6 separate regions of the Homo sapiens genome follow, and regions 1, 2, 4, 5 and 6 are each reported to be linked to region 3. The links are microRNA targets in miRTarBase. Many come from high-throughput screens and were not tested one by one. Region 3 holds a microRNA gene; each other region holds the end of a gene's coding sequence.

Evidence for each region. Region 3 holds the annotated microRNA hsa-miR-98-5p (UGAGGUAGUAAGUUGUAUUGUU, at 1,192-1,213, opposite strand). A microRNA usually pairs through its seed, bases 2 to 8, with sites in the 3' UTR of a target mRNA and lowers its output. Matches are read on the target gene's strand: a 7mer-m8 pairs with bases 2 to 8, a 7mer-A1 pairs with bases 2 to 7 and ends in A, and an 8mer does both.
Region 1: miRTarBase lists CHRNA9 as a target of hsa-miR-98-5p. The part of its 3' UTR that is shown has no 7-base or 8-base seed match.
Region 2: the mRNA of TPST2 is a reported target of hsa-miR-98-5p. The part of its 3' UTR that is shown has no 7-base or 8-base seed match.
Region 4: the mRNA of CLDN12 is a reported target of hsa-miR-98-5p. Seed matches in the 3' UTR shown: 8mer at 2,993-3,000.
Region 5: miRTarBase lists ZCCHC3 as a target of hsa-miR-98-5p. Seed matches in the 3' UTR shown: 7mer-m8 at 2,984-2,990.
Region 6: the mRNA of NFKB2 is a reported target of hsa-miR-98-5p. The part of its 3' UTR that is shown has no 7-base or 8-base seed match.

What each region holds. Positions count from the first base shown.
Region 1 is chr4:40,354,295-40,359,444 of GRCh38, reverse strand. CHRNA9 (cholinergic receptor nicotinic alpha 9 subunit) reads right to left here. Exons shown (of 5, transcript NM_017581.4): 5 at 4,228-5,150. The coding sequence ends at 4,925. Among named protein-coding and RNA genes, the nearest start is that of CHRNA9, 22 kb to the right of the region's middle.
Region 2 is chr22:26,524,252-26,529,641 of GRCh38, forward strand. TPST2 (tyrosylprotein sulfotransferase 2) reads right to left here. Exons shown (of 7, transcript NM_003595.5): 6 at 3,963-4,011; 7 at 1-2,016. The coding sequence ends at 3,970. Among named protein-coding and RNA genes, the nearest start is that of TFIP11-DT, 14 kb to the left of the region's middle.
Region 3 is chrX:53,555,108-53,558,107 of GRCh38, forward strand. It overlaps MIR98 (microRNA 98), which reads right to left and starts at 1,234; the gene lies at 1,116-1,234. HUWE1 (HECT, UBA and WWE domain containing E3 ubiquitin protein ligase 1) reads right to left here. Exons shown (of 84, transcript NM_031407.7): 60 at 2,275-2,320. It overlaps MIRLET7F2 (microRNA let-7f-2), which reads right to left and starts at 2,167; the gene lies at 2,085-2,167.
Region 4 is chr7:90,411,571-90,416,960 of GRCh38, reverse strand. It overlaps CLDN12 (claudin 12), which reads right to left. Exons shown (of 4, transcript NM_001185072.3): 3 at 4,912-4,954; 4 at 1,007-4,317. The coding sequence starts at 4,284. The coding sequence ends at 3,550. Among named protein-coding and RNA genes, the nearest start is that of CLDN12, 11 kb to the right of the region's middle.
Region 5 is chr20:297,271-302,660 of GRCh38, reverse strand. ZCCHC3 (zinc finger CCHC-type containing 3) reads right to left here and starts at 5,091. Exons shown (of 1, transcript NM_033089.7): 1 at 2,340-5,091. The coding sequence starts at 5,074. The coding sequence ends at 3,863. RefSeq lists silencers at 1,162-1,456, 4,648-4,717, 4,898-4,987.
Region 6 is chr10:102,401,120-102,406,509 of GRCh38, forward strand. It overlaps NFKB2 (nuclear factor kappa B subunit 2), which reads left to right. Exons shown (of 23, transcript NM_001322934.2): 19 at 61-212; 20 at 330-399; 21 at 626-798; 22 at 929-1,040; 23 at 1,133-1,405. The coding sequence ends at 1,257. It overlaps PSD (pleckstrin and Sec7 domain containing), which reads right to left. Exons shown (of 17, transcript NM_002779.5): 12 at 4,227-4,417; 13 at 4,064-4,134; 14 at 3,779-3,936; 15 at 3,464-3,608; 16 at 2,723-2,866; 17 at 1,500-2,311. The coding sequence ends at 2,081. Among named protein-coding and RNA genes, the nearest start is that of NFKB2, 8.1 kb to the left of the region's middle. RefSeq lists an enhancer at 1-452 and a silencer at 2,693-2,987.

The DNA of each region.
Region 1 (5,150 bases), not on the chromosome of region 3:
AAGACCCCATCTCAAAAATGAAAATAAGTCCAGATGCGGTGGCTCATGTCTGTAATCCCAGCACTTTGAGAGGCCAAAGCAACCAGATCACCTGAGGTCAGGAGTTCAAGACCAGCCTGACCAACATGGAGAAACCCCATCTCTACTGAAAATACAAAATTAGCCGGGTGTGGTGGCACATACCTGTAATCCCAGCTACTCAGGAGGCTGAGGCAGGAGAGTCGCTTGAACCCAGGAGGCGGATATTGCAGTAAGCCGAGAGAGAGCCACTGCACTCCAGCCTGGGCAACAGAGCAAGACTCTGTCTCAATAAATAAATAAATAAATATAGCAGGACAAAATAGTAAATACATAATGATTATAATTATAGCAGAGAAACTAGACACATAAATATGATTGAAGGAAAATAATAGTAAATGAATAGTTGTTATTGCTATGATTGTGGAACTTGAGTAATTGTTATTCTTTTTTTTTTTTTTTTTTTTTTTTGAGACAGAGTTTCGCTCTTGTTGCCCAGGCTGGAGTGTAAGGGCGCAATCTTGGCTCACCACAACCTCTGTCTCCTGGGTTCAAGCGATTCTCCTGCCTCAGCCTCCCGAGTAGCTGGGATTACAGGTATGTGCCACCACACCCGGCTAATTTTGTATTTTCAGTAGAGATGGGGTTTCTCCATGTTGGTCAGGCTGGTTTCAAACTCCTGACCTCAGGTAATCCACCCACCTCGACTCCCCAAAGTGCTGGGATTACAAGCATGAGCCACCGTGCCTGGCCTGTTATTCTTTTATATCCTGCCCTTACTATAGTGTGGCTGTATAATTGAGGCAGGAACTGCTTGTTATCTACCCAACATCTACTCTCTCTTTCCTTCTTATAAAGATAACATTGATTGTCTTTGGGAAGGTAAAACTATTCCAAGATTTTCTTGCATGTGATTCATTTCTAGCTAATGAGCTACAGAAGAAAGTCATGGATGTGCTTCTGCTTCTAGGATTTTTTTCTTTTCTTTTCTTTTCTTTTTGATACAGAGTCTTGCTGTGTCGCAGAGGCTGGAGGGGAGTGCAGTGGCATGATCTCAGCTCACTGCAACCTCTGCCCCCTGGGTTCAAGCAATTCTCATGTCTCAGCCTCCCAAGTAGCTGGAATTACAGGCGCCCACCACCACGCCTGGCTAATTTTTGTATTTTTAGTAGAGCCAGGGTTTTGCCATGTTGGCCAGGCTGGTGTCGATCTCCCAGCCTCAAGTTGATCTGCCCACCTCAGCCTCCCAAAGTGCTGCTGGGATTATAGGCATGAGCCACTGCGCCCAGCCTAGCATTTTTAAAAATTTTTATTATTATTATTATTTTTTTAAAGAGGGAAGTTCGGCTGGTATGTCTCTTTGGCCTTCCATTCTTTTTTCTTCCCATTTGGAATGTGGCTGCAAAGCCTACAGATGCAACCGCCTTTCTGTGACCGCGAAGCATCAAGCCTCAGGCTGTTGGGCTTCACTTCCAAATGGAGGAGAGGAAAGATGGAAAGATCCCTGGGCTTTGCAGCTCTGGATTTATTTTTGTGTGAGATGAGTAACCTCTGTTTGCTTAAGTTATGGCTCACTGGGTTTTCTGTTATTCACAGCCAAATACAACTCTAACTGATAAAATTACTTCTGTAATTAAAATAAAATAAGAAGAAAAGTTGTCTGATTCCATTCCGTGACTAAACAAGGTTTTTGTTCTTCCTTTTTTGTTTTTGTTTGTTTGTTTGTTTTGAGGTGGAGTTTAGCTCTTGTTGCCCAGGCTGGAGTGCAATGACGCCCAGGCTTGGCCACTGCAACCTCCGCCTCCCAGGTTCAAGCGATTCTCCCAGCTAATTTTGTATTTTTAGTACATACGGGGTTTCTCCATGTTGGTCAGGCTGGTCTCAAACTGCTGACCTCAGGTGATCCACCCGATTCAGCCTCCCAAAGGGCTGGGATTACAGGTGTGAGCCACCGCACCCAGCCTGGTTTCTGTTCTTCTAAGCTCTGCCCACACTCTTCTTTCACCAATCCCTTCTAATCCTTACCCTCATTTCTTTCTTTGTCTAGCAAACTCCTACTCAACCTTCAAAACTCAGCTTAAGACCGGAAACAGAGGCTCACGCCTGTAATCCCAGTGCTTTGGGAGGCCGAGGCGGGCAGAACATCTGAGGTCAGGAGTTTGAGACCAGCCTGGGCAACAGGGCGAAACCTCATCTCTACAAAAATACAAAAATTAGCCAGGCGAGGTGGCGCGTACCTGTAGTCCCAGCTACTCAGGAGGCTGAGGCAGGAGAATTGCTTGAACCCAAGAGGTGGAGGTTGCAGTGAGCCGAGATTACACAGCCTGGGTGATAGAGTGAGACTCCATCTCAAAAGCAAAAGACAACAATAAAAAACCTCAACTCAAATGTTAATGTTATACCCTGCAAAGTCTTTCCTAAGCTTTCCCTCAAACAGATTCATCATCATTGTGCCCATGGTGTTTTGTCCGTGATTCTGTGATAGCACGTTTTACACTTGACTATGTTTGCCTATTTCCTTGGTATCTCCTCCACTGAACTGTGAGCAACATGTGAGCAACTGGAGGGTAGAAGCCACGTTTCATACTTGTTCCCTCCAAGGCAGCTGGCATACATACCACTAAGTATATAATAGGTGCACAACAAATATTTTCTGGAATGAGTAAACACAAGAATTAAAAAACAATGCCGGCCAGGTGCTTTGGCTCACACCTGTAATCCCAGCACTTTGGGAGGCTGAGGCGGGCGGATCACGAGGTCAGGAGTTCTAGGCCAGCCTGGCCAATATGGTGAAACCCCGTCTCTACTAAAAATACAAAAAATTAGCCAGGCGTGGTGGCACGCATCTGTAGTCTCAGCTACTCAGGAGGCTGAAGCAGGAGAATCACTTGAAACCAGGAAGCGGAGGTTGCAGTGAGCCAAGATCAGGCCACTGAACTCCAGCCTGGGTGACAGAGTGAAACTCCGTCTAAAAAAAAAAAACAACAAAAACAAACAAACAAAAAGCAATGTCTATATGTTTAAACCAAACATCATCCTCCCCTTCCTAGGTTGACTCCTGTTTTCTCTCCACCTCTGTTTAACTGGAAAAAGAATAGTTAATGAGTTGGCAGTTAGGGAATGTTTCACACTGTCACCTAGGCTAGTGTAGTGGTGCAATCACAGCTCACTGCAGCCTCAGTCTCCTGGGGTTCAAGTGATCCTCCCACCTCAGCCTCCCAAGTAGCTGGGACCACAGTTGTCTGTCACCATGCCCGGCTAATTTTTAACTTTTTTGTAGAGACAGGTTCTCTGCATGTTGCCCAGGCTGCTCTGGAACTCCTGGGCTCAGGCAATCTTCCACCTCAGTCTCCCAAAATATTGAGACTATAGGGCTGGGCACGGTGTCATGCCTGTAATCCCAGCACTTTGGGAGGCCAAGGTGGGCAGATCGCTTGAGGCCGGGAGTTCCATACCAGCCTGGCCAACATGGCAAAACCCCGTCTCTACAAAAAATACCAAAAAAATTAGCCGGGTGTGGTGGCACACGCCTGTAGTCCCAGCTACTAGGGAGGCTGAAGCAAGATAATTGCTTAAACCTGGGAGGCAGAGATTGCAGTGAGCCAAGATCGTGCCACTGCACTCCAGCCTGGGTGACAGAGTGAGACTCCCTCTCAAACAAACAAACAAAACAAAAAAACAGGATTATAGATGTAAGCCACTGCACCCAGCCTTGGATCATTTTAATCTAGGTGGGAATGGGGGGTGAATTTGAAGTCACATTTTATTGAAAGTAGGAAAGAAGTTGAGACATACAGGAAGTAAATTAGGGCAGAAAGTTCAGAATTAAGAATAAGAATCTCTCAGTCTCTCCTGTGCTAAATCATAATTTGTCATGGCCAAAAGCAGGGTGACTTTAGCAGATGTAGCCCAACTCTGAGTCCCAGTGCTGAGGGGTGAGTCCCAGTTCCACTTACACCGTGTTGGATGTTGAGGAGGCAGGTCACTTACATCCTCCTTTTAAGCCACGGTTTCTTTCTCTGAGAAAGAATAGTAACGCTCGCCTTCCCAACTCACAGAGTTGTTGTGAGGATCAAAGTGATCAGGCTTGTGCATAAGAATTGCTGTGACACCCCATGCAAATGTGAATCATATTGCTTTTATTACATGCAGGAAAAAACGTGATCCATGTTTGGTGAAAAGTTCAATGAATGAATGGATGAGCCCAGCTTGCTAATCACCTTATTTTAATACAAGACTAAATGCAGGAACAGCTTCATCTATCATATTTTAATCAAAGGGTAAATGCAGGAATGACTTCATCTTTTGGGTTTATATAAAACATAACCAACATATACGACATCACCATTATGAAGAAAGTTCTTTTCCCCATTAAACAGCTGATGCTTAGACTTTCTTTACATGGGACAAAACCTTTTATTCCACTATTTGAGATATGACTTCAAATGCACTATGCCTGAATAAGGTACCATTGAGACTTAAATCACACTAATATATATATGACTATTTCATTTTTCAAATGCATATTTTAATGGGAACTAAGGGGAAAATGAGTTTGTTTTGTTTTGCCTTTTTTGTTTTAAATTTTACCAGTAAAGTGTATTTTGTTATCTGTACTGCCAAAGAGGTAAATAATTATATAAACTAGAGGCCAGTCACCCACCACTACGGTGGGCTATAAAAGGGCTCTTTCCCTATTTCTTCCATCTTCCTACCCTTGAAATTTTGGTTCTTCTGCTTAATTTAACAGAGCAGATAGCTTCGACATTCATTTGAAGCTAAAAATAAAAAGCACAGACAACATAACCCCTAAATTATAGATGAACAAAAATCTTGGAAGAACATTGGAATAGATCACAGGGAATTGTATTAATTTCTACCCAGATAGCAAAGCCAATATCTGTGACTAATCCGCTCTTGCTATGATCAAAATAGTCATCACAAACACCATAATGAAAAAAATCCACATGAAGAATCGGTCTATGACTTTCGCCACCTTCTTCCATTCACTCCCCTTGGAATTGGTGGCCTTGTGGTCTTTGAGGCACTTGGCGATGTACTCAATATTCCTCGTCAGCACTTTGTACTGTGCACAGTAACTCTCGGCCTCCTGAGGGTTCTTACCCTGGCAG
Region 2 (5,390 bases), not on the chromosome of region 3:
GGTATCAAGGACCACCGCCAATGTCATCCATTAGCCATCCCCAATAAACCCATGAAGTTCAGCCTGAACAGCATAGAAAGACCTCGTCTCTACAGAAAAAAAAAAATTTAAAAAGTAGCCAGGTGTGGTGGCACATGCCCAGCTACTCAGGAGGCTAAGATGGGAGGATCACCTGACCCTAGGAGACCGAGGCTGCAGTGAGCTATGATCACGCCACTGTACTCTAGCCTGAGTGACAGAGCGAGATTCTGTCTAAACACACACATACACACATACACACCATGAAGTTTTAACTTCCCCATTTTACAGATGAAGAGACAAAGTCTCAAGCCATACAGCCAGTAGGTCAGCCTGACTCCAAAAACCCATGCCCCAAGCCACAATAAGTCACTGCCTTCCAAAAGCCTCATATTATCATGAGATATAAGGCAAGGAGGTATGGGTAAAACACCTTAACCCTTAAAGATACAAACTTATTGTAGGCCCAGTTGGTCCCTCAGCATTTGGGGACTGTGCTATAAGGGTTAACTCAGCAGGCTTGAAGTGTCCAAACCCAGCACATCTCAAAGAAAAAACTGGCCTTAATGGGCTCCTGGGAGATAACCTCTAAGTCCTTGGAATATCCTCCCAAGTAGGGGTGTCTTTGTATACCTCAGGCCTTGGGCCATACCAGGCCAGATAGTTTGTGCTAATAATGTGATTTATGGTGGGGACCTTGGGCCATGCTGTATCATTTTGACCTCTGGAGCAGCTGGTGATTAAGTAACTAAAGTCGGTCATGTGATTGCCCTATGTGACTGACATGCAATAAAAACCTAGACCCCAAGGCTAGGGTGAGCTTTCTGGCTGGTAATATTTAGTACGTGTTGTCACATATCATTGCTGGGAAAATTAAGTGTGTCTGTAAGACTCTACCAGGAGATGACAACTGGAAGCTTGAGGCCGGTCTCTCCCGGACTCTGCCCTATGCACCTTTTTCTTTTGTTGATTTTATTTTGAGATGGAGTCTTGCTCTGTCACCCAGGCTGGAGTATAATGGCACGATCTCCGCTCACTGCAACCTCCGCCTCCCAGGTTCAAGCCTCCTGAGTAGCTGGGATTACAGGTGCACACCACCACGCCCAGGTAATTTTTGTATTTTTAGTAGAGACGGGGTTTCACCATGTTGGCCAGGCTGGTCTCGAACTCCTGACCTCAGGCGATCTGCCTGCCTTGGCCTCCCAAAGTGCTGGGATTACAGGCGTGAGCCACTCCACCCGGCCTCTTTTGCTGATTTTAATGTTTATCCTTTTGCTGTAATAAACCATAACCATAAGGATAATAGCTCTTCTGAATTCTGAGTTCTTCTAGCCAATCATCGATCCTGGGGGTGGCCCTGGGGACCCTGACACAGGAATTCAGCTGTGCCTTACATGCACCTATATTCTCCAGCTTTTTGCTCATCACAAATCTACCTGACAAAATCCAGTATGGAAAGAAAAAAAAAACCCTATTCATTCAGTAAAGTAAGGCACAAACAAATGAGCCTCTGTTCACTTTATTCAAAGAGTATTTTTTTCCTCTGTGAAACTAGGTAGAACTGAGGAGGAATCAAAGAAAGCCTCATATATTAAACTCTTAAATAGATTCTTTGAATTCAAAGTAAGGGTCAATAGGAGAGGCACAGGTTGTGGGCCTTGTCCCAGCAAACAAAGCCACCAAGGCAGTCCTGCAAATTAAGGAGGATGGCAAATCTGTCTCTTAAAAAAAAGTTCTTGAGGGGAAAAATATAAAATACCTAAGTTTCAAAAGCCGGACTACTTCCATACCCTTCATTCTCTACCCTGGAGTGTCCAGAGATAGAGAGTTTCAAGGTACGTTTTCAATGATTCAGCTTTTGCAAACATATGCAAATACATTCCTCATCAGCAGTCCTGTTTTGGCGATTAATAGCAAGCAATATGCTTGGATTAGAGGTCCGATTTCCACTTAAATGCATTTTCTTCTCTTCTTGGCAATGAAGTCATTTGCGGAGATCTGAAAGTGGGGAAGACTGTGTTAGGCTCAGAGTAACAATTCTGAAATAGATCATTTATATTTATACATGTGATTGCAGAACATACTGTCTTCATCCATTCGCATAAGCATGTAATGTTTTAAGAATGCATCCCAGATGGCCAGAGAGAGTTTAAATTTAAAAACGTTTCCTGGGTTCTTCCCCACATCTCATCTTGCATCCACTTGACCTCAAATATACACTTTTCTTATGGACACAGAGCAAATGACAGTGATTATGTGATAAATACTGATGAATTCTTGGAGGCAAGAGAAGGACTCATGTTTGTTCAAGGCCAACTCTGTACCCAGGATTCAGCTAAAGCACCTCTATATGGTATCTCATTTAAACAGTAAAACAAGTAACAAATCTGCTTTTGTCAATGAGAAGGTCCAGGATTCTACTAATGATCTGCAGAAAGGCAGCGAGGGAACAGTTAGTGAGGAACAGGGAGGAAAGCTGTTTTTCATGAGAGGGTTCTTTTCTTTGGAATAGAACTATGGGATCTTGGGTAGGTGTGGTGGCTCATGCCTGTAATCCCAGCACTTTGGGAGGCTGAGGTGGGCAGATCACTTGAGGCCAGGAGTTTGAGACCAGCCTGGCCAACATGGTGAAACCCCGTCTCTACTAAAAATACAAAAATTAGCTGGGTGTGGTAGCGCACACTTGTAACCCCAGCTACTTGGAAGGCTGAGGCACGAGAGTCACTTGAACCCCAGAAGGTGGAGATTGCTGTGAGCTGAGATCGTGCCACTGCACTCCAGCCTGGGGAACAGGGTGAGACTCTGTCTCAAAAACAAAAACTCTGGGATCTTAGTGCAACTCAAGATGGGAACCCTAATAATGACAGAGTCCTTGCAGGTTGGAGCAAAGTAAATTGAAAGAAAAACTAAAACATATGCTGATTGTTTAAAAATAGATACAGAGACTAAAAATAAGAGTCCAAGCTGGAAGGTGTTTCCATGTAAAATAACCTCTCTTGAGGTTTCCTTTAACCTGATCATAGAGGCTGGGGGACAGAAGGAAGTGAGCTCACTCATGCAGCCTTAACTCCAGTGCCCAAGTCCACAGCGAGGGCCCAGCACTTCACGGTTTCCAAGCACTCCCACCTGGGCCAGCTCACGCCATCTCATGGCCAACCTCAGAGGTGGGCAATGATGAATCCCCATTCTCCAGATGAAGAAAACAGGGGCTGAAGGGAGTTAAACCTGGAGATCTTAAATCTTTGAATTACCAAGTTCAAAAAAATCCCTTTCCCCACCCCTTAGTAGAATATGGATGGATAAATGTGCACTTAAAATCATTCACTAAAAGCAAACCTGGGAGGAATTCTGTCCCTTGGTGGCTGTGTAGCCTTGGGCAAGTCAAAGCCCTTCCTTCTCTGTGCTTTGGTTTTCTCTTCTGTAAAATGGAATGATCATGTCATCCGCCTCCCAAGGATGCTGAGGGTTAAATGAGTAACACAGGACCAGTACCTGGCCCAACGGCCATGGGGGTTATTCTTAGAACAGAACGACTTGTGACTGTTATTAGAACATTAATTGCTCTGGCCCAACGCTGATGCTGTTTTTAGAAGCCAGACTGGCAGACAGCATTCTGTGCAAAAATGGTTCCAGAATCTCCCCCTCCCCCATCATAGTGGTGCTTCCTGCCCTGTCCCCAGTGTCAGACAAACCTTTTTCTGGTTGGTTCAGCGTTAATCCCTCTCCCTGTCCTTGATCCAGAGCTAGAAAACTAAGCCTTGATTCTATAAATAGCACCCCCAGTCTGTCACCATGGAAACCTCTGATGGGGCTGGGTCAGCCCACCCTAGTGGACATGTCTACCCCAGGGAGGCTCTGGAAGGACAGAAAAGTGGCTTTTCAGAAAAGTGGCTCCGGGGCCACCCAGAAGCAGCGGGAACCCCCAGTGAAGTCCACAGGCTTACCTGGAAATCACGAGCTTCCTAAGTGGGAGGAGGTGCTGTTCTGGTTCACCTGGAGAAAGACAATACACAGAAGAAGGGGTCACGGCCAGGTGAGGGATGCCTTGCTGTATTGAGGGTCACCCCTCAGCATCACTGAGTCATGCACATGCTTATTCACGTAGTATTTACTGTACATCTACTATGTGCCAGGTGCTGGGATAGCGTGGTGAGCGGGACAGACCCAAACCTAGGATCACGGAACTTACGTTCGAGTTGAAGAAAAAGCCTACTGAACACGCACAGATGCAAGAAAATGTCAAACTTGGGCAATATGACAGGCTGCTATGAGTGATCAGTATCTGTGCTACTTCAAAAACGGTGGCCAGGAAAGGACTCTACAAGATGGCATTTCAGCTGTGGTATAATAATAAATATTTGTTCATTGTCCCCAGTTCCTGGCACATAGCTCCCCAAACTCTTGGAATCTCTGAAGGAATAAGGGTATCTTGGCCGGGCGCCATGGCTCATGGCTGTAATCCCAGCGCTTTGGGAGGCCGAGGAGGGTGGATCACCTGAGGTCAGGAGTTTGAGACCAGCCTGGCCAACATGGCAAAACTCTGTCTCTACTAAAATACAAAAATTAGCCGGGTGTGGTGGCGGGCACCTGTAATCCTAGCTACTCAGGAGGCTGAGGCAGGAGAATCGCTTGAACCCGGGAGGCAGAGGTTGCAGTGAGCCAAGATCATGCCACTGCACTCCAGCCTGGGTGACAGAGGGAGACTAGGTATCAAAAAAACAAAAACAAAAACAAAAAAAAAACAAAACGTATCTTTTGCATGCTAATGACATGACTAATGGCTGGGGGTCCCTAGATAGCTTCAGGATTAGGGGAAGGGGTCTCAGAAAGACCAAGGCATGATTAGAGGGTTGGAACTTTTTTTGTTGTTTGAGACGGAGTCTCACTGTGTTGCCCAGGCTGGATGGAGTGCGGTGGTGCAATCTTGGTTCACTGCAACCTCCGCGTCCTGAGCTCAAGCAATTCTCCTGCCTCAGCCTTCCAAGTAGCTGGGACTACAGACGTGTGCCACCACGAATGGCTAATATTTTTTGTATTTTTAGTAGAGACAGGGTTTCACCATGTTGGCCCGGCTGGTTTTGAACTGCTGACCTCAAGTGATCTGCCTGCCTCAGCCTCCCAAAGTGCTAGGATTACAGGCATGAGCCACCACACCCAGCCAGAAGGTTGGAACTTTAAGCCCCACCTGCCTTCTCCCCTCCCTGACCTCCTGGGAGGGGAGAGGGGAGAGGGTCTAGGGGCTAGGAGCTGGAGATTGGGCAATCACCCATGACCCATGATTTAATCAGTCATGCCTCTATGATGAAATCTCTAAATGACAGAATTTGGAAAGCTTCCTGGTTGGTAAACACATTGAGAGGCTGGGAGGGTGT
Region 3 (3,000 bases):
TCTGTCCCAAGAATGCAAGAACTGGAGCTCTGACTCTGTGGATTCTAAGAATAAAATCCTTTCTGTGCCCTGCAGGTGGAAGGGGGAAGATTTCAGGCCATATAGGGTGAGGCTAAATGTCTCTGACCTATAGGTACACAGAAAATCTAACTACCAAAATCCTATTGATCCTCCCACTTCATCTATTTGGAGCAAGAAATGGTCAGAATTTCGTTCAAAACTCTATTTGTTTTTTTTGGAGACAGGGTCTCACTGTTGCCCAGGCTGGAGTGTAGTGGCACAATCATGGCTCACTGCAGCCTTCACCTCCCGGGCTCAGGTGATCTTCCCACCTCAGCCTCCCAAGTAGCTGAGACTATAGGCATGTGCCACCATACCTGACTAATTTTTTGTATATTTAGTAGAGACAGGGTCTTGCCATGTTGCCCAGGCTGGTCTCAAACTCCTAAGCTCTAGCAATCCACCCACCTCGGCCTCCCAAAGTGCTGGGATTACAGGCGTGAGCCACTGCGTCCAGCCCTTCAAAATCTTTTTTTTTTTTTTTTTTTTCCTGAGACAGAGTCTTGCTCTGTTGCCCAGGCTGGAGTGCAGTGGCGTGTTCTCAGCTCACTGAAGCCTCCACTTCCTGGGTTCAAGCAATTCTCCTGCCTCAGCCTCCTGAGTAGCTGGGACCACAGGCGAGTGTCACCAAGCCTGGCTAATTTTTGTATTTTGAGTAGAGGCGGGGTTTCGCCGTGTTGGCCAGGTTGGTCTCGAACTCCTGACCTCAGGTGATCCACCCGCCTCGGCCTCCCAAAAATGCTGGGATTACAGGCATGAACCACTGCGCCTGGCCCAAAATTCTTAAAGTATGCTTTCCATTCCCTTGCACACATTCCTGTTCTATTACTAATAAAATGCAATCATTACACAGTTGAAGAATAGCAAAATGAGTTCATGCCCAAAGGTAAAATAATTATATGCTCCAATTAATGAAAGACAAGTCACTTTATAATGACATCTGCCTCACCCTAAACACCATCTGTCCCCTTCCATGTCTCTTTTCTTCCAGTCCAAATTATCCAAGGAACATCTACAACTTTGTCTGATGGAGGCAACACTGCTAAGACTAAGTGTGAATATGCCACACACCAGGGAAAGTAGTAAGTTGTATAGTTATCTTCTAATTGGGGCCTAATATCCCTACCCCACAACAATACAACTTACTACCTCACCCTGGCATGAGCAGAATCCTCTAATAAGGGCAGCAGGCAAAAGGCCATTTTACATGGTGACAGACTCTTTTAAAGATCTTTTGCTAGATTAAGGGTACCAAGGCATCTACCCTACTTCACTGCTTTAAAAAATATTGTGCAGGCTTTGGTACAATCATTTTCCAACTCAAGTGCGAAAGGAGACAGGTGTAGGGAGGCAGAAGAATGTTCTGAGGAAATATGGGTGGGGGAGACATATGATATCACATGAACCAACTGATAGAATCACAAAATGGCTACTGACCATTGTTAAGAAGATCAGAGGGAATAGGAAACATACGGCAGTCATACCACTAAGCCCAGAGAGCTACCTTCATGAACAGCACACTATCCAAGACAATGTTCCTAGACTTTTAGATTCCATGGACCAATAAAATTTAATTAAAAAAAGAACAAAAAGTAGAGACTAATGTAGGGGTTGCCAACTTTTAGTTTAGCCATGTAAGAAAAAACATCCAATCAACATCATTTAATAAAAATATTTTGGTACCACAGAATTAGGAATATGATCTCTAAATACAAAAACAGCCTTTTAAATGGAATAAATTCAGCTTTATGAAAAAGGCATTAAAGCTCCTTGATTTTGTTCGTTTCCACAGAGGACTGGCATTTGAGAACCACTGTCATCAGTTATTCTCATGAAGTGCCACACCATGGTGGTCATCAAAGGACCAGCCACTTCAAAGATGTACATGAACATGCTGTTTCAGAGGACAGAGTTGCAGTCAGGAAATGAACAAGACACATGACCTCATTACCCATGCCAGAACAAAGTAGATAATAACCAGAACAAGAACCTGAACAGAGCCAGTCGGAGAAGAAGTGTACCACCGTGGGAAAGACAGTAGACTGTATAGTTATCTCCAAGATGGGGTATGACCCTAAAACTATACAATCTACTACCTCATCCCACAGAGCACCAGTGTCCATCTTCAGCCTATGTGGGCCAGCTACTCGGAACTATCAGGATAAAGAAGCAACCAATTGATTAGTAAGAAGGGAGAAAGGGAAGGAGAGTTACCTGAGAGATTCTGTTCAGTGGAGTCATTTGACTTAGATGCAGTACACTGCAAAAAGAAGGGATAGACCAATGTGGGACTTTGCAAGCACCTAAGATAGAGGTCAACTGTAATAGTCACCATCCTCCACCCAGACCATCTAGGAGTTCAGTGATCTAATGGAGAATGCTTTGGCCATGTGACCAAAGGAAGGTGATCATTTCACTGTGCAAATATATGACCAATTTCTCTATACATACTCAGGTTCAAGAATTGTTTGGGGCTGAGGGGGAAATAAATATGGAAGGAAAGGATAATAAAAACCCCTTAGGGATGGGCACGATCATGATCATTCTAGCAAGAATTTCTTGGTTTCATCTATGTATTTTTTCCCTTCATGGGGCTTATTTTTTATTTTGTCCACTCTAGTCTTTTCAGTCACAGGCTAGGTTCACTTATTTTTCATCCTATATCAAGTTTGAAACAATGTGTGTATTAGGTAAAAAGTTCTATATAAAGATATTTGTTAGATCAACCTTGTTATTTTAACTGAACACTTCACTACCCTTATTTTTAATCTACCTGATTCCTTAACTGCTGAGTAGGGTATACTAAAGTCTTTCACTCTCAAGTCTTATTTCTTTGTATTTCTATCAGTTTTTCCCCCTTTTATATCAAGTGATACACTGTAATGTATAATTCTATCAACATTTACTCAGACATTTAAAAGATCTCTGTCTGAGGTCCCA
Region 4 (5,390 bases), not on the chromosome of region 3:
TTCTCACTTCTGGTTGGTAAACCAGTCTCTGGTGAACCTGGTTAGCCCGAATGGTTTCTCTACCATTTATTCACCCTCAGTGAACCTGCACAACAGTCCAGAACGGACTGTTGTTCGTTAGTGTAACCCAGTTTGAAGTAGCTTCTGATTTCCAGTGCAACATATGGCTCAGCTATCTAACCTATCAGAGCCACAGGTTTCAGTGAGAAGTGTATGTAAGAACTGCCCCAACACAGGTGTAATCCAAAACTATACATTCATCACAGGTTTCAGAAATGTTGAGGTGACATGCCTGTCAGGACCACTTCTCCTGGTAACCTCGAGCTTTGAAGAGTACGGAAAGTTCCCTCTACTTAACTGTTTGAGAACTGAACTCCCAGTCTCTAAGATCACAGGCTGAGAAAACTCCATTGATGAGGCAAATCTGGCCCACAACTTGTCTCTTTGCAGACTGTTTAAAAAAAAAAGAAAAGGAGAAAAAAAAAAGCCCAGTGAACTGTTAGGACCACAGGACTACTTGGACTACTCTTAGAAATGGATAAAACGTCTTGGCACTTGTGGAATAAAAGTTCCATGTTTTCCAATTCCTTTCTAGTTCCTTTTTCTGAGACAAAGTCTCTGTCACCCAGGCTGGAATGCAGTGGCATGATCTCAGCTCACTGCAACCTTCACCTCCCATGTTCAAGCAATTCTCGTGCCTCAGCCACTCGAGTAGCTGGGATTACAGGTGCACACCACCATGCCTGGCTAATTTTTTGTATTTTTAGTAGAGACAGGGTTTCACCACGTTGGCCAGGATGATCTCAAGGGCCTGACCTCAAGTGATCCGCCTGCCTTGGCCCCCCAAAGTGCTGGGATTACAGGCGTGAGCCACTGCACCCAGCCTTCCAGTTCACACGTTTTAGAGCTTTAAATGGAACTGTCTTTTTCAATTTACATATATCTGAGAAACATTTCTCAAAATATTTCACCTTAAAACACTGAGGAAAAAAACAGAAGCAGAAACTTGTAAAAATACATCTTTTAATAAACATTAAGAAGTACAGCGCACTTTTATTGAGGTTTTACATTGTAGTTTACAGCAAATATACTATCCATTGTAGTGTATATGTACAAGTAAAGTAAACTTAGGTTTGTTTTCTCTCCCATGGCTGGATAAACCAAATCTGATACATCCACATTTAAGGTTGTTTTCCAAGTTGGTTTCCATAAAAGGCCTTTAACAATAATAGGCTTTTAACAACAAAAAGGTATCCCTCCCATCACAATGAGAGCTTGATGAGGGCTCAAAAGTGACTTCAAAAACTGTAAATAATTATTTTCCTTGGACGGCTTTAAAAACAGCTACTGATAGCAAATCAGAAACACTAAAGAAAAAAGACAATAAGGAAACAGCTGTTTGTCTAGTGAATCCATAATAAATACCAATTTGAGGCTATAGATTACAAAGCCAAAATATTCTTATAGGAAAGTTAATGTTTATATTTACAATCCCATGGACTAAAAAAACTGTCTAATATCTTAAAGACTGAGTCTACCTTTATTTAACATTGTTTATACACAAAGACCCAAGGGATGGTAGAATTCTTGATCCTTCTGGACAAAAGCATAGTGAGAGGGGACTGAAATTAACAAAAAGGGAAAATTAACATTAATCTCAAAATTCTACCCATCGTTGTCTTAAAATGATCAAGACTCAGCTACATCTGAGAAAAAGGAAAAGGATCAGAAGTGAAAGAAATCAGAAGCCAGTAATTAAAAAAATCATAACCTTGTGTGCTTTCTACTGACGGCATTTAAAAATTTATACAACTAGATTTATTCGCTATATATATAAACTAGTGTTGGAATTAGGGGAAAAAGTACCAAATACATCTACACAAATACTAGAATCATATTCAGAATTGCAAAAAGGCATAATAATCTGTTTACCATATAACTAGCTGTTTGTAAAATCTGTAATGGTTAATAAAAAATCCTTACGAATATAGTACTAATATGTAGTAAATTACACCAATTAAATAAGCAGCTCAAATTCATAAGGCTAAAGACCCAATATCCCTGAATTTCTAAGTGTTCATCTCAGCTTTAACATGGTTTCATCTAATTGTTACCTCATCAGAAGAGACATTTTTAATAACTCCTCCATCCTTAATACATCATCATACTTTCAGAAGTGGAGAGGGAACAATTTCCCTACCACTTTTGTCCATTCTCATAAATCAGTGTTATTACAAAATCTAGGCTAGCACAGGTGCCTTAAAGGATACAATGGACTGAAGTAAACAGAATTTCAAGGTCCAGGATATTGTTGGTGTTGTACAATTTGTCTGTCTGCCAGAAAGTTGTGTCTCTGGTTGAAATATTCCTGGATCAATGATTAAGAAGTTAAGGCCAACTGCCAACGAAGTCAGATTATTCCCCAACTGCCAGGTAACATTTTGATCTTCTCTATTAAAATGTCTTACTGGATGGAACCAGATCTCATACTTTTCATGTATCCTCTATAGCACCTACTAAAGTGTTAGGCAGAGATATATGCTCAAGGAAATAATCAGTGACGGGGGCGAGAAATGAATCAAGGGTGAATGAATCAAGGTTATGGTAAAGCCATACCTTACTTCACCCATAACTCAAAAGGCAGTCACCAGAGTAAATCTCTAGTGTACTCACTGAAGAACAGACTTCTTGTCCCCTACTAAATTATGTCTGAAAGAGAACAAACCATTATGGCCCTTTTATTTATTTCTCCTAGCCACTAAGAGATTGTATATGGGCACGAGTACTGCTTGATGGAAGATATCTCCAAAAAAGAGTTTTCTGCCTCAGAGGAAACACTAACCTGTCATAAAGCACATTCTAATCCCAATAATACAATTTATGGAATCATTAATGTTAAAAATTATTACATGTTATTCATAAGTAGGTGATATTTAGAATGGTAGTCTTATTCTAACATCGTTAAAATACGTTTTACTTTTAAACAGTGGCATGAGGTAGAAGAAAGTCACAAAAGAAAGTAATCTTCAACATACTGACACCTATTCATACAATTAGCCCCGATAGAAGAGTTACAGCCTTAAGCTAGATTATTGACTACTATTAAAATATTACCCTTACCTGAAATAAATTTCTTATATTTGAAACTGCCTTTTCTTTGCAGTTAAAGGTATTATAGAAAAAGAAAAATACACACTGAAATTTTCATGAAGATTGTATACAACAGCTTCTGCTAACCATCATTCTTTAACATGTTGCTCTACATTACCTCAATTGTGATGCAGGCCTCTTCCACTTAAATAATTAATTAGATATCAATATGAAGGCTAAAATTCCTTCCAGTATAAGAAGCAAAATTTAAAAAATTCACATTTAATATAATATACTTCTCATAAAAACTAGCAGCACTTCATTCTACTAGGACATATAAATTTGGCTTCATTGATTGGTCAAAAACAAAGGAAAATGTATGTAGGTCCAAAAGAGCTCTTTGCACAAGGGGAATGTGAGGCTACAAGAAGTTTTCTTTAACAATTAACTATTTCCCCATTAAGTGGTGTGTGAAACTACTGGAATGTCAATTTCAATGGCAGAGAGGCGAGAGCGTGCTGAATAGGGCTGTGAGTAAGTATGCATACTGGGTGGATGGGAGTACAATGGTTGCCAGAAAGGAGAAGGCAAAGATTTGCATGTACAATACCAAATAAATAGTATAAGGGAAGTCATAAACAGGCCCCCAGCACTAGCAATAGTGACATACACTGCATAGTCAAATGAAAAGACTGGCTCAAACTTCTTGTTCAGATGGATGTTATAAAAGATGACCCAGATAGATGGGGAGAGGCTCACAGTACCTGCCAGGAAAAATAGCAGCCCAGCCACCAGGTGGCAACCTGCACTATTGACCAGACACTTGGCCAGTTTGATGTTGGGCACCGAGGACCTGAAGGCAGTGTTGCACATTCCAATCAGGCAGAGCAGCAGGGCACCCATGGCGATCAGCATGCTGAGGGGTAGGGCAAACTGGAGGACACGCAGGTCCAGCTGGTCAACTGATGAGTACCAAGTAGTGTCGTACATCAGGCAGTCACTGCTCCCGTCATACCGGGCACATTTCACCCACAGGCCTGTGTAAACAGTCAGGTTCTTCTCGTTTCTGTTGAATGTGATCAATCGTAATTTTCTCCAGTTGGGAAGCAGAGTCCCTGCAAAGAGGCCTGCTACTGAGGCGATTCCACACAGGAAGGAAAGGACTGTGGCTGCGTGGACATCCCGACAGCCCATGGCAGGCAAGCTTGTGGAGTACTGTCAGTCAGACTAGGGGGTGACACACAAGAGGACAAATCATGAGGGGACAATAGCAGAACAGAGCAGGAAGGGTGGTGCCAACTGGCAACACATCTAATGATGAAATGTCAATGCAAAGAGGGAAAGTCTCTCCCTTGTTTCCTCTCTGTACAGTACAAATGTATATACATGCAGGTGTGTGTGACCTCAGAGCACAGGTGCACACACATTTGGTTATTACTGACTGGGTCATAGAGCAACTAAAATCTTTAGCCATCGGTATTTTTCTTCACAATTAAAAAAACAACCAAGATAATGTTAAAGTCTCTTACAATCACACCTTCAATCTTCTTTTTGTCAATAATCGTTCTTTCAACACATATACATCAAGCACTCTGTATGTGTCAGGCACTCACACAGCAAGGGCCCACTCATCAATCATCAGTTAGCTACAAACACCACAAATTCAGCCTCAAATGCTCATGCAGCAGGGGTGAAGGTGGCTCATAAAAAGCAAAGGTGTAGGGAAAGAAGCAGTACAGGACAGGGGAATGGTTGAGAGTCAACTCTTAGCAAGGTTGCTTGAATTCTAATCCCCATCTCCTCACTTACTAGCTCACTGACCTTGGGCCAGATTCAGAACTTCCCTGTGCCTCGTTTTCTTCATCTGTGAAATGGAAAAAATAACAGTGCCAACCTTGCAGGGTTGTTCTATGGGTTCAATGAGATAATATAATGTCAAGTGCTTAAAACATGTCTAGAACACAACAAATGCTATGCCAAGTGTTAACTACTTCTTAGCATTCAGTGACCCAGCTCACTGCTTGGCACATCACAGGAGTTCAAAGAACATTCATTGAATGAATGTTAAATAAGAAAAAACAAACTGATCTCATTCCTATGTACTAGGCACACTAGGAAATTATAAAAAGTAAATGAGCTCATCTCCAATGAGTCAGTCAAATGAAAAGATGAGAACAATGGTCCCTGAAATTATTCTGCTTAATTACTTCCTTGTTGATTCAACATGACCCAATTACTTCCTTGTTGATTCAAGATGTAGATTTTCAGGGAAATCTACAGCACTTGTTGGTTATTACTAC
Region 5 (5,390 bases), not on the chromosome of region 3:
TTTCTAAACTTAGACTGATTCATTTAGTCTCTAGAAGTGGTCATGCCTCCTCCCACTATAGGGTTGTTTTACTTGCTATCCCTCTTGCCTAGGTTAATACCCTTGCCATCCCTTAATCCCCAGCCCCATCTCTCGATTAACTCCTTTTATGTCTTTTCCATCTCAGTTCAAACATTTTCTCTGATCCTTAAGACTGGATCAGCTTTGCTTGTTAAACAGGGATCTCACCCTGTATGTTTCTTTTAGTGCATCATCGTCTGTAATTATGTACTTGTGTGACTCTAGAATCTGAGCTTCAGGGACTTGATTATCCTGCTCCATGCTGTGTTCCATCGCTTAGAAAAGGCCCCTATAGAGTTGGCGCTTAACAGGCATGTGTTGAAAGAATGAATGGAATGGAGGAGGCCTGATTGGAGGCTCTGAGGACAAAATCCACGTTTTTAAATATGGCTGGTAAGCCCTGTGACACCTCTTCTCGGCGTTTTCTCCCAGCCACATCTTCCCCTGACTCTTGGCCAGTCCGAACACGCTGTGTGCTCTCTGGCCTCCAGGCCTCTACATCTGCTATTTCTGCTGCTTGGCTGTCTCTTCACTCTTAGCCTGGTTCTTACTCATCTTGCAGGTTTCAGTCAGGACGTTTTCTCTTCTAGGGAAACCTTTACTTCAGACAATTCTATACAGGACAAATGTTGGCTGGGTGCGGTGTCTCACGCCTGTAATCCCAGCACTTTCAGAGGCTGAGGCAGGTGGATCACCTGAGGTCAGGAGTTCGAGACCAGCCTGGCCAACATGCTGAAACCCCATCTCCACTAAAAATACAAAAATTAGCCGGGCGTGGTGGCACGTGCCTGTAATCCCAGCTACTTGGAAGGCTCAGGCACATGAATCGCTTGAATCCGGGAGGTGGAGGTTGCAGTGAGCCAAGATCATGCCACTGCACTCCAGCCTGGGCAACAGAGTGAGACTCTGTCTCAAAAAAAAATTGTTAAATATATGATTGTAAACATTGCCTACTGTTACTTATCTGTACCTTCCATTGCAAGTGCACTGTCTTGTTCAAGGCAGCCTATGCAGAGGGCCTTGCATGGGGCCCAGCTCTAATGCCCTCCGTATTTGTTGAAGTGGAATGAATCAATGTCCCCTAGTCAACCAGCCTCAGTCCGGGCATCTCTGCACACTTTCCAGGAGCCCAAAAACAGTGAAGAATTGTAATTTGAGGGCTGCTTGATCAGGAAAGGAAGCTGGGGGAGGTTTGTTCAGCTCCAGCCCCTGGCTGTCCCTGGGCCACCAGGCAGGAGGCCTTGAAGCAGATCCTGTGGGGGATGGGCAGGGAAACAGTTTCTTCCTCTCCTCCCTCCTGGAGAGTGGGGGGATGGGGCCAGGAGAGGGAAGGTTCCTTCAAGGAGGCTCCCTGGCACAGTGCCTGCTTTGAGGAACGGAGTGGAGAGTATGGTGAATGCAGGCTTTCTCCTGGCCCCTGGCCTCCAGCTCTGTGAGAGGGAGGGAAACCGCTGGCAAAGACGGGAAAGAGGGATGGGAGGGAGGGGAGAGTCTGCTTGCTTTGGGAGACAAGGAGAGGGGTTGAACTGGCTCTGAAAGACAGGATTCCCAAGAGCCTACCAGGTCCCAACTCCAGATCAGCTCTGGAAATATCCTCAAATCACTGAGTCAGAGTCAATATACTGGGAACGTTTAACTCTCAGGATCAGATCATCCTAGCATCACCAGCTGGAAAATCCTTCAGAGAGTTGTATCTGGGGTCTGCAGGGTATTGGACCTGAAGTCCAGGGACCTTGACCCTATTCTGCCTGCAGGCCCAGTCTCCAGTGGGGGCTAACTTGGAGAAGTCAGCTCCCTGGATCCCGCTTTTTCAACAGCTGGAAGAAATGGCATTTTCCCAGAACCCAAGAATATTTTGCATCCCATCCACAGCGCGCGCTTACAGTAACAGAAAGACGAGGAAGCTGGCAAACCACCTCTCTTTCCCACAGGTCTGTAATCTCCCTGAGGGCAGGGTTCAGCTCACACATCTTATACTCTGGTCTCAAACCTGGCTGCCCATCAGAATTGCTTGAGGATGATTAACTAAAATGTTTCACTTCCTCTAACAGTGATTCTGATTTATTGGAACTGTGTTAGGACTTAAAACCCGTTTTAACAGTGTGCTGATTGTGATGCAAAGGGACCGGCACAACGTAGTAGGTGCTAAGTGTTGCCTGCAGGGGTGGGAAATGTATTTAGCAAGGTAAACAAATGGAGTGTAGGGGAAGTGGGATTGAAATACGGTCTGGAGCTGGGTAACTGTGCATCTAACACTTTGAAAGGAAATAGTGCACCAGTTTTAGCAATACAAAAGATAAATATTTATTCAGAACAAAACTTTTAACAATCAATTTTACATTCTAAGCCACAAGGAAATAGCAAAACATATAGCAAAGGAAAAGCAAACACTAAAAGAAAAGCAGTGTACTGTCTTTTCTACTGGATAACACTTAGTTGGCCCATGACCTCTCGCTTGGCCTATCTCCCAAGTACATTTTAGAGTTAACAGCTCACTCATAATTTTGGGTTAAAATCCATCTTTCTCCTGAGAATCAGGAGTTGCACATGAGCTCCAGCTAGCTGCTTCTCTAGGGTTCGTAGCTATTGAGGCTAAGGTGCAAATGTAAACCTTTGGTAGGTTTCTTTACACAGGGGCACCCCCATTTCTCACTGGTGGCAATGAATGGGGAAGGGGTAGGGCCTCCAAAGGACCTGGCACACTGTAATCCAGAAGTGGTGCCCCAGGGAGCAACGAATGCACCCTGGAGTGTGGTCCTTGGTCCGTTCCGTATCTCCCAAGTATTCAGAAGCCCCTCCTTAAAAACCTTCTCTTTCTGCTCCCTCCTCCAGGTGATTTCTCAGCATTCCTCTGGGCTGATCATTCTGGAGAGATCAGACTTTCTGGGCCCTCAAGTGTTGAGGAAATTGTTGTGAAGTGTGAGAGGTAGTGGAATGAGCACCGGGCTTGGGGTCAGGGGACTCTACTATAGGCTGGCTCTGGCACCAGACAGCTATGTGATTTTCACCCAGTCATTTAACCTCTTTGGGCCTGTTTCATCTGCTGGAAAACCAGGGAATTGGTCCAAACCAACTCTCAGGTTCTTTCCAGCAGGAATATTCTAGATTCCATGATTCTATAAAAAATGGCTTCTGAGCCACCAAAAGAGCTGTCATGAAGTCCATGCATCTTTGTGCCATAAGAGAGGCCCTTGGCCACCATTCAGAGCTTATTGATTCAGATTATATACACTTCTAACAACACTGGTTTCACAAATTCTCAGACCACGTAGATTAAAAGCAGCAAATTAAATGAGGGAGGGGAAGAGCTGCAAAAGGTAGACACTCTGATAGAAGCCACAGTCAACAATGTTTTCAATTCAGCAAACACTGATGGAGTGCCTACCACGTGTTGGGCCCCGTACCTAGTGCTGGGGCATAAAGATGAGCAAGGCAGCCCAAAGGGTGAAAATCCAGGGGAAGAAAAGGTATGGGGCGGGGAGGGCGGGAGGGGGGCAAGGAGAGAGAGAAAAAGTACAAGAAACAAAACAAATACCCAATAGAAAAACGAAAATAAAATTTTAAAAGGGAGGGGCAACACATCTGCACGCTACAGTTCTCCGCAGTCGTTATTGGTGACAGAGTCACCAATTCAGAACAGGCTGAAATGGAGTAAACTCGGTTTAAGAAGGCATAGAGAGATGTCTCTTGTAGGTTTTAAAAAGATCTCCTTCAAAAACGATAAAAAATGGTTTAAAAAAAAGTTTTGGCACTTAAGAGGGATAAGCTGGCTGTGTGTTCACCCTGGCAGGCAGGCGGGTGTTTAGTGCCCGGCCACGCCGGTTAGCTGAGCTGCCACGGAATTGTGCACTGCTTTGGGACACTGGGCAAAGGCGTGTCCTCGCTTGCCACAGAGGTTGCACACGATGCCCTTCCGGCAGTAAGGGCTCAGGTGCCCCTCCTCCCCGCACCTGAAGCACCTGTCCTGCGTGCAGCTGCCGCTCATGTGGGTCCGGGAACCACATTTAAAGCATGTCTTGGGCTGCCCCTTGTACCAGCTGTAGCCCCTCTCGGCCCCCAGGAAGAAGGCCCCTGGCAAGTGCCTGACCCCGCCCTCCCCCTGGCGCAGCTCGATCTCGCATTTGTACTCCCCGGTCCAGATCCCAAACCTGTCGGTCACTTTCACCGGCACGGCCAGCACGTCGCAGTGGCGCTTGAGCCAAGTCACAATGTCCTCCACGTCCACCGTCTCGTTCCGGAAGAGGATGAAGAGCGTCTTCAAGCTGGACTTGCTCCGCCCCAGCACCACAAAGTTCTCCCAGCAGTCCTCCTGCTCCCGCTTCTCCTCGTAGACGCGTAGGAACAGGGCCAGCTTCTCCGCTGAGCGGAAGCTCACGTCGAATTCGCGGCTGCCCGGGATCTGGATGACCGCGTAGATGTCGCTCGGGTCCATGCCGATGGAGCGCAGGATAAGCGCTCCTACCACGAAGTCCCGGGTCGGGCAGGCGCCCTCGTCTCCCTGGAAACAGATGCGGACGAGGAAGCGACCCTTGCCCGGGCCTGCCGCCGCCGCCGGCTCATCCTGGAGGGGCCGCTCGGCCGCGTCCTCGGCCTCGCCGGGCCTGGCCGGGGTCGCCATGGCGGCCGCCGCCGCCTCGGCCTTCTTCCTCCTGCCCGCCTCCGCAGCGCCCTTCTTTTTGCGGGGGTCCACCGCCTCGCCGGCCGGATCTCTCCGACGGCCCTTCGGATCCCCGCGGCCAGCCGGTGGGAAGTCGCCGAGGTCCGGCGCCGCCAGGCCCGCGGGGCCGCCGAGCCCGGCGCTCCCTCCACCGCCGCCGCTTTCCTCCTCCCGCCGCGGCGGCCGCGGCTCGCGGAATTCGCCCTTCTTCTCGGCTAGATTCTTCACCACCTGGGCCCAGCCCATCTTCTCGCGGCCGCCGTCGGCCTCCTCGCCCCGGGCCGCGGGCCGCGCGGGGGGCAGAAGCTGCGGCCGCCCCCGTTTCCTCTCTTCCTCCGCGCCGCCGCCGGTGGCCATTTTACCTCCTTCCCAGCATCCTCCACTCGCTCCCGCAGCCAAAGGGCGCCCATCGCGCGCGCCCGCCCGCCGGGGCTGTGTGGGTTTGGTTTTTTTTTTTTTTTGAAATTTGACGCTACCCTCCCCCGCCGCGCCCTCAAAGGTATCACATGCGGCGCATATTGGCCAGCGCCGGCTCTGCGCCCCCTGCGCTGAGCCTCTCTTCCGCCAGCGCTCGCTCCAACCTCACCTCCGTCCGCAGCGGGATGGGGCGCCCGGAGGCGGCCCTTTCCCCAGCGCGGGTTTGGCAGCCTCCGGCCTCGCTCTCGAGGATTTG
Region 6 (5,390 bases), not on the chromosome of region 3:
CTTTGCAGTCCTTAATGTAGGCCCCCACCATACCGCCCCATGACGGCCTCCCTCTCCCAGGTGCTGACATCCATGCTGAAAACGAGGAGCCCCTGTGCCCACTGCCTTCACCCCCTACCTCTGATAGCGACTCGGACTCTGAAGGGCCTGAGAAGGACACCCGAAGCAGCTTCCGGGGCCACACGCCTCTTGACCTCACTTGCAGCACCAAGGTGAGGCCAGCCCGGGACTAGAAGTGCTCTGAGTGACGGGGTCCAGAGTATCTGGACTTAAAGACACAGGCTTAAGGACGAGGTGGGAGGTAGTCAGAACTGCGGCTGTCTCCCCAGGTGAAGACCTTGCTGCTAAATGCTGCTCAGAACACCATGGAGCCACCCCTGACCCCGCCCAGCCCAGCAGGTGAGAAGCATCAGGCATCCCCAGCCCGACTCCTCTGACTCCTCACAGAGGTCTCTTCTCCTTCAGGACCTCTGAAGGAGGCCTCCCTTTCTCTACCCTCAGCCCCGTCCATCACCCCTCATGGTCCTGTCTGTCGCTTACCTTGGGAGAAAGGCAGTGTTCAGGTGTCCATGTCCCCACCCAACTCTGGAGGTAAATGACATGTCTGTATGTGTGTCCCCCTAAGGGCCGGGACTGTCACTTGGTGATACAGCTCTGCAGAACCTGGAGCAGCTGCTAGACGGGCCAGAAGCCCAGGGCAGCTGGGCAGAGCTGGCAGAGCGTCTGGGGCTGCGCAGCCTGGTAGACACGTACCGACAGACAACCTCACCCAGTGGCAGCCTCCTGCGCAGCTACGAGGTGGGTTGGCCTGTGCCCTGCCCCCTCCCCAGCCTCCTTTCCCGATCTGAGTCCAGGTGCCTCCTTGGCCCCAGGGCTCCCGAGCACATGCCCTAACCATGACTCAGACCTCATTCCTCTGTCTTCTCAGCTGGCTGGCGGGGACCTGGCAGGTCTACTGGAGGCCCTGTCTGACATGGGCCTAGAGGAGGGAGTGAGGCTGCTGAGGGGTCCAGAAACCCGAGACAAGCTGCCCAGCACAGGTAAAGGGGCCTCCCTGGAAGGTGGATCTGGACCTGGAGGGCCGGAGGCCTGAGGCTTTGACTATCCCATTCCTGTCCCCATTTACCCCCAGCAGAGGTGAAGGAAGACAGTGCGTACGGGAGCCAGTCAGTGGAGCAGGAGGCAGAGAAGCTGGGCCCACCCCCTGAGCCACCAGGAGGGCTCTGCCACGGGCACCCCCAGCCTCAGGTGCACTGACCTGCTGCCTGCCCCCAGCCCCCTTCCCGGACCCCCTGTACAGCGTCCCCACCTATTTCAAATCTTATTTAACACCCCACACCCACCCCTCAGTTGGGACAAATAAAGGATTCTCATGGGAAGGGGAGGACCCCTCCTTCCCAACTTATGGCAGCCCCTGATGTGACTCTTGTCCCTGGAACCAGCTACCCACCCTGCCCACATGCCAGGCATGGTGAGAAGAGAAGGAGGAGGCCCAGCCAGCAAGTCCAGAGCAGTTTTAATGGGGGTGGAGGCTGTACAAAGGGCAAGGCCCACTGAAGCGGGGGAAAGCCAGGCCGTGCTGCCCCCGGCCCAGGTATGGGGCCTTGGCATGGACGCCCTTCCTCCACCTCCAGCAAGAGAAAGAGTAAGCCCTTGGGGAGGAAGGAGGGGAAACCAGCTCAGCCCCAAATCCTGGTCTCTGTCCAAGCCAGGCCCCAGGACAGAGGGGGACTGATGGTGTCAGGGTGGGGGTGGTCTCAGCAGAAAGCAGAAACGGCATCAGGCCTCTCCCACACAAAAAAAAAGCATCAAAAGTTCAGGGGCGCTAGCCCCTCCCGCCCCCGCCCACCCTGTACGAAAAAGTGCAAAACATTATCACAAAAAGGGGCTCTCGGAGGTGCCCCTAGCCTAGGCTCCTGAGGCCCAGGCCCCAGCCCTGCCCTGCCCCGGACACCGCGTCCGGCGCGGTCGGGCCCTAGGCCGGGAGGCCCTCGTGGGTGGCCCGAGGCCGGCCCGGGCTCAGGCAGGGCCATGTCATCCTTCAGGTGCCCAGCAGGCACTCCCCACCCTAAACCTCATCTCAGGGCTTCCGCCGCCCACTGCCTGCCCCTGGCCGAGGCTCTGAGCTGTGACGCTGAGCCCGGGGCTGGCTGGAGGGTTTGGGCTGCAGGGAGGGACTGGAGTGAGAAGGAGGGAGTCCATCCTCTGTGCTCCCGGCCTGGGCCAGTGCTGCCTCCACTGCATCCAGCTCCTCACTGCCTGCCTTCAGCTTGACCCGAAGCAGCGCTGCATAGGTGCTGTAGCGGGATTTCTGAGGCAGAGGGGCAGGGGCTGTGAGAGCCTCTTCTCTGCCTTCTGCCCACCCCACCATCTGGACCAGGGAGGGCCGCCAGCAGGGCAGAAGATGGCAGGTGCCCACCCAGGACTGTGAGATGGTCCCATGCGGGCTGGTGCCCCCTCTGGGCTCTCCTGGGACCATCATCTATAACCTAATGTGTCTTGAGCCTTTACTAGAGCTGGGGAAATGGCACGCTTGAGACATGCCTCACCTCGAGACCCCAGTGGATGTCAAATGTTATCCTTGTTGCACAGAGGAGGAAACTGAGGCTTAGGTTAAGCAACCTGCCCAAGGACCTCCGGCCGGTTCCACTGTTAGAGTTCATGCCCTTCACCCTAGTATGGGCCTGCGTGTGTGGACAGAGGGGCAGACAGGGAGGCTCACCTCAAACTCCAGGTAGGCCTCCTTCTGCCGCTGCTCTTCAGCCTCCTTGCCCCGGCCCTTCTTGCCCAGCTGGGCGGCCCGGTGCTCCCGCAGCTCACTTGCCATGGCCTTCAGCTTGGCCTCGTGGGTCCGCACCTGCTCCTCCTAGCGGCCAGGGGGAGGCATGGTCATGGTCACTCTGCCCTATACAGTGCCTCTGCAGATTTTTAAAAAGATACCCCTTCCAGCCGGGCGCGGTGGCTCACGCCTGTAATCCCAGCACTTTGGGAGGCCAAGGCGGGCGGATCACGAGGTCAGGAGATCGAGACCATCCTGGCTAACACGGTGAAACCCCGTCTCTACTAAAAATATAAAAAATTAGCCAGGCGTGGTGGCAGGTGCCTGTAGTCCCAGCTACTCAGGAGGCTGGGGCAGGAGAACGGCGTGAACCCGGGAGGCAGAGCTTGCAGTGAGCTGAGATCGTGCCACGGCACTCCCACCTGGGCAACAGAGCGAGACTCCATCTCAAAAAAAAAAAAAAAAAAGATGCCCCTTCCTTTGGACAAACAAAGCACTATGTTTGGGTTCCCAGCCGGCAAGCGGGACCCAGTGGGGGCTGGATTTCAGTCCCTGCTCACCCCTGTGGCCAGCATCCTGGTGCAGGGGACATCTCCACGATCACACGCAGCAGCCTTGAGTGCAGTGGGCCTGAGCCTAACACCCTCCATCCCACTGGCACTAGGTGGACAGAGCTTGGGCTACCTGGGAGAGGCGGGTGGCAGCGCTGGGCAGGAGAGGGCGGCTGAACTTCTTTTGGGAGCTAACAGCAGCTGGGAAGGGGGGCGCAGAGAACATAGCGGCTACTACATTGATGCGAGTGATCCAGGACTGCATCTGCTCCAGGCTCCTGGGGAGAAAGCACAGCCCTTTGGGACCTGGGCCCAGGGTTTCTGTCCCAGGATGCCAGTCCTGGCTCAAGTGTGGCCTGAGAAGGAATGAAAAAATCCAGGGACAGGGAGGGGAGCAGGATGGGAGGTGGGGGAAGGGGTCCGGGATGGGCAGGAGGAGGGCACTCACGGGGCCTGGAAGAGGAAGACCCGCCAGTCAGCTGTGCGCAGGTAGAAGACGTGGGGCCTCTTGCTGTAGTCACTGGCACGAGTGGCCAGGGCATGGTGGATGCTGATGGCATTCTTGAGCTCCGTCTCTGAAAGGGCCTTCCCAGGCTTGTACTCCTCCTGCAGGGGTGTCCATCTTGTCCTGGCCCCAAATGCAGCCTGGCCCAGCCCCTCCTATTCCCACCCATCACCCCACACCCACCAGCCAACTCAGTCCCAGCCCCAGCCCCCTGGCCTGACCCCGCACCTTCTGCAGGTAGAGGATCATGCCCTTGAGGATCCCGTGGAAGCTCTTCCAGCCCCGCTTGCCCCGAGGTGCTGCGGGGAGAGAAGACAGGTCAGGGGGCCCTGGAACAGGCCCACTCCCATCCATCCCCTAGACGCCCGCCCCCCGCAACTCGGCCACATACTCTTCCTGCAGTCAGGGTCTGCGTGCACCTTTCGCACCAGGGCCCCGTGCTTGTAGACGGCAGCCCCAGGCTCGGGAGTCAGGTCCAGGAAAGGGCTGGAGCCACTGCCACTGCCCCCGCTGATCCGCTTGATGACCTTGGGGTTGGGGTCGGCCAACTCAGACAGAGAGCGTCTCAGCTCCTCCTCGTCTCTGCAGGTGTGATCACCTCAGAGGGGGCTGGCCATGGAGCCGCGGCCCCCGCTTCAGTTCTGGCCTCTGCTCGCCCTGGAAAAGCTCCCCCAGTGTTTGTGGCTTGGGGGGCTCAACCTGAGGGTCCTGCCATGTCTCCCGTCTCAGATCAGGCCTCCACAATGTGTAGCTGTGCCTCCTCAGAGCAGGGCACCTCCCTCAGAGCTCCCCAGCCTAGAGCCACCACTGTCCCTTCCTCCCAGCAAGTAGGGCCAGCACTATCCTCTCCATTGCTGCACACCTGCAGCCCTCACACCCTTCTCCACCAGGACAGCCCCGGGCCTGCCTCCGCTGGCTCAACCACATCCAGCCCCAGGCTTTGCTCACGGTTTGTGGGCTAAATGGTAGCAGATGGAAGAAGTAGTTTCCTAGTGCCGCCCCCACCCCAACCCCATACATCCTGGTCTACAGGCTCAGTCAGATACAAAATTTCGGATTCTATCTTGTCACTCCCTTGCTCAAGAACCTGTGGTAGTTCCCTGTTACTTCCCATATGGAGCCTACACTGCATCTCCCCCAACAGTGTTTTTCTCCGTCCCAGCTAGGCCTGCCTCCCTTGGTCCCCCACCCCATACTCATTTCAGCCACCACACCTTTGCCTCCCAAATTCCAGCTTCCCCTTTCCTCTTCCCAAATGTTGCCCCAACTTCATGGCCCCAGTCTCAACCCTCCAAAAGCCTTCCCTGATCTCCCCCTGCACCCTAATCCTGAGCTGCACCTCCCCTGAGATCTCCAATGACTGGGAACTCCCAGCTAACTGGACAGTGAGGGAGTCTCAGTGGATAACGGCAAATTTGAATGATCTATGAACTGTGAAGATAAGGCCTCTACCCTCAGACTGGGGACCCCAAGGCCCAAACTGGATTTCTTCCCTCAGACTAGAAGACTAGACTCTTCCAAGACTTACTTATGAGTCTCTGTGTTTCTTTTTTCT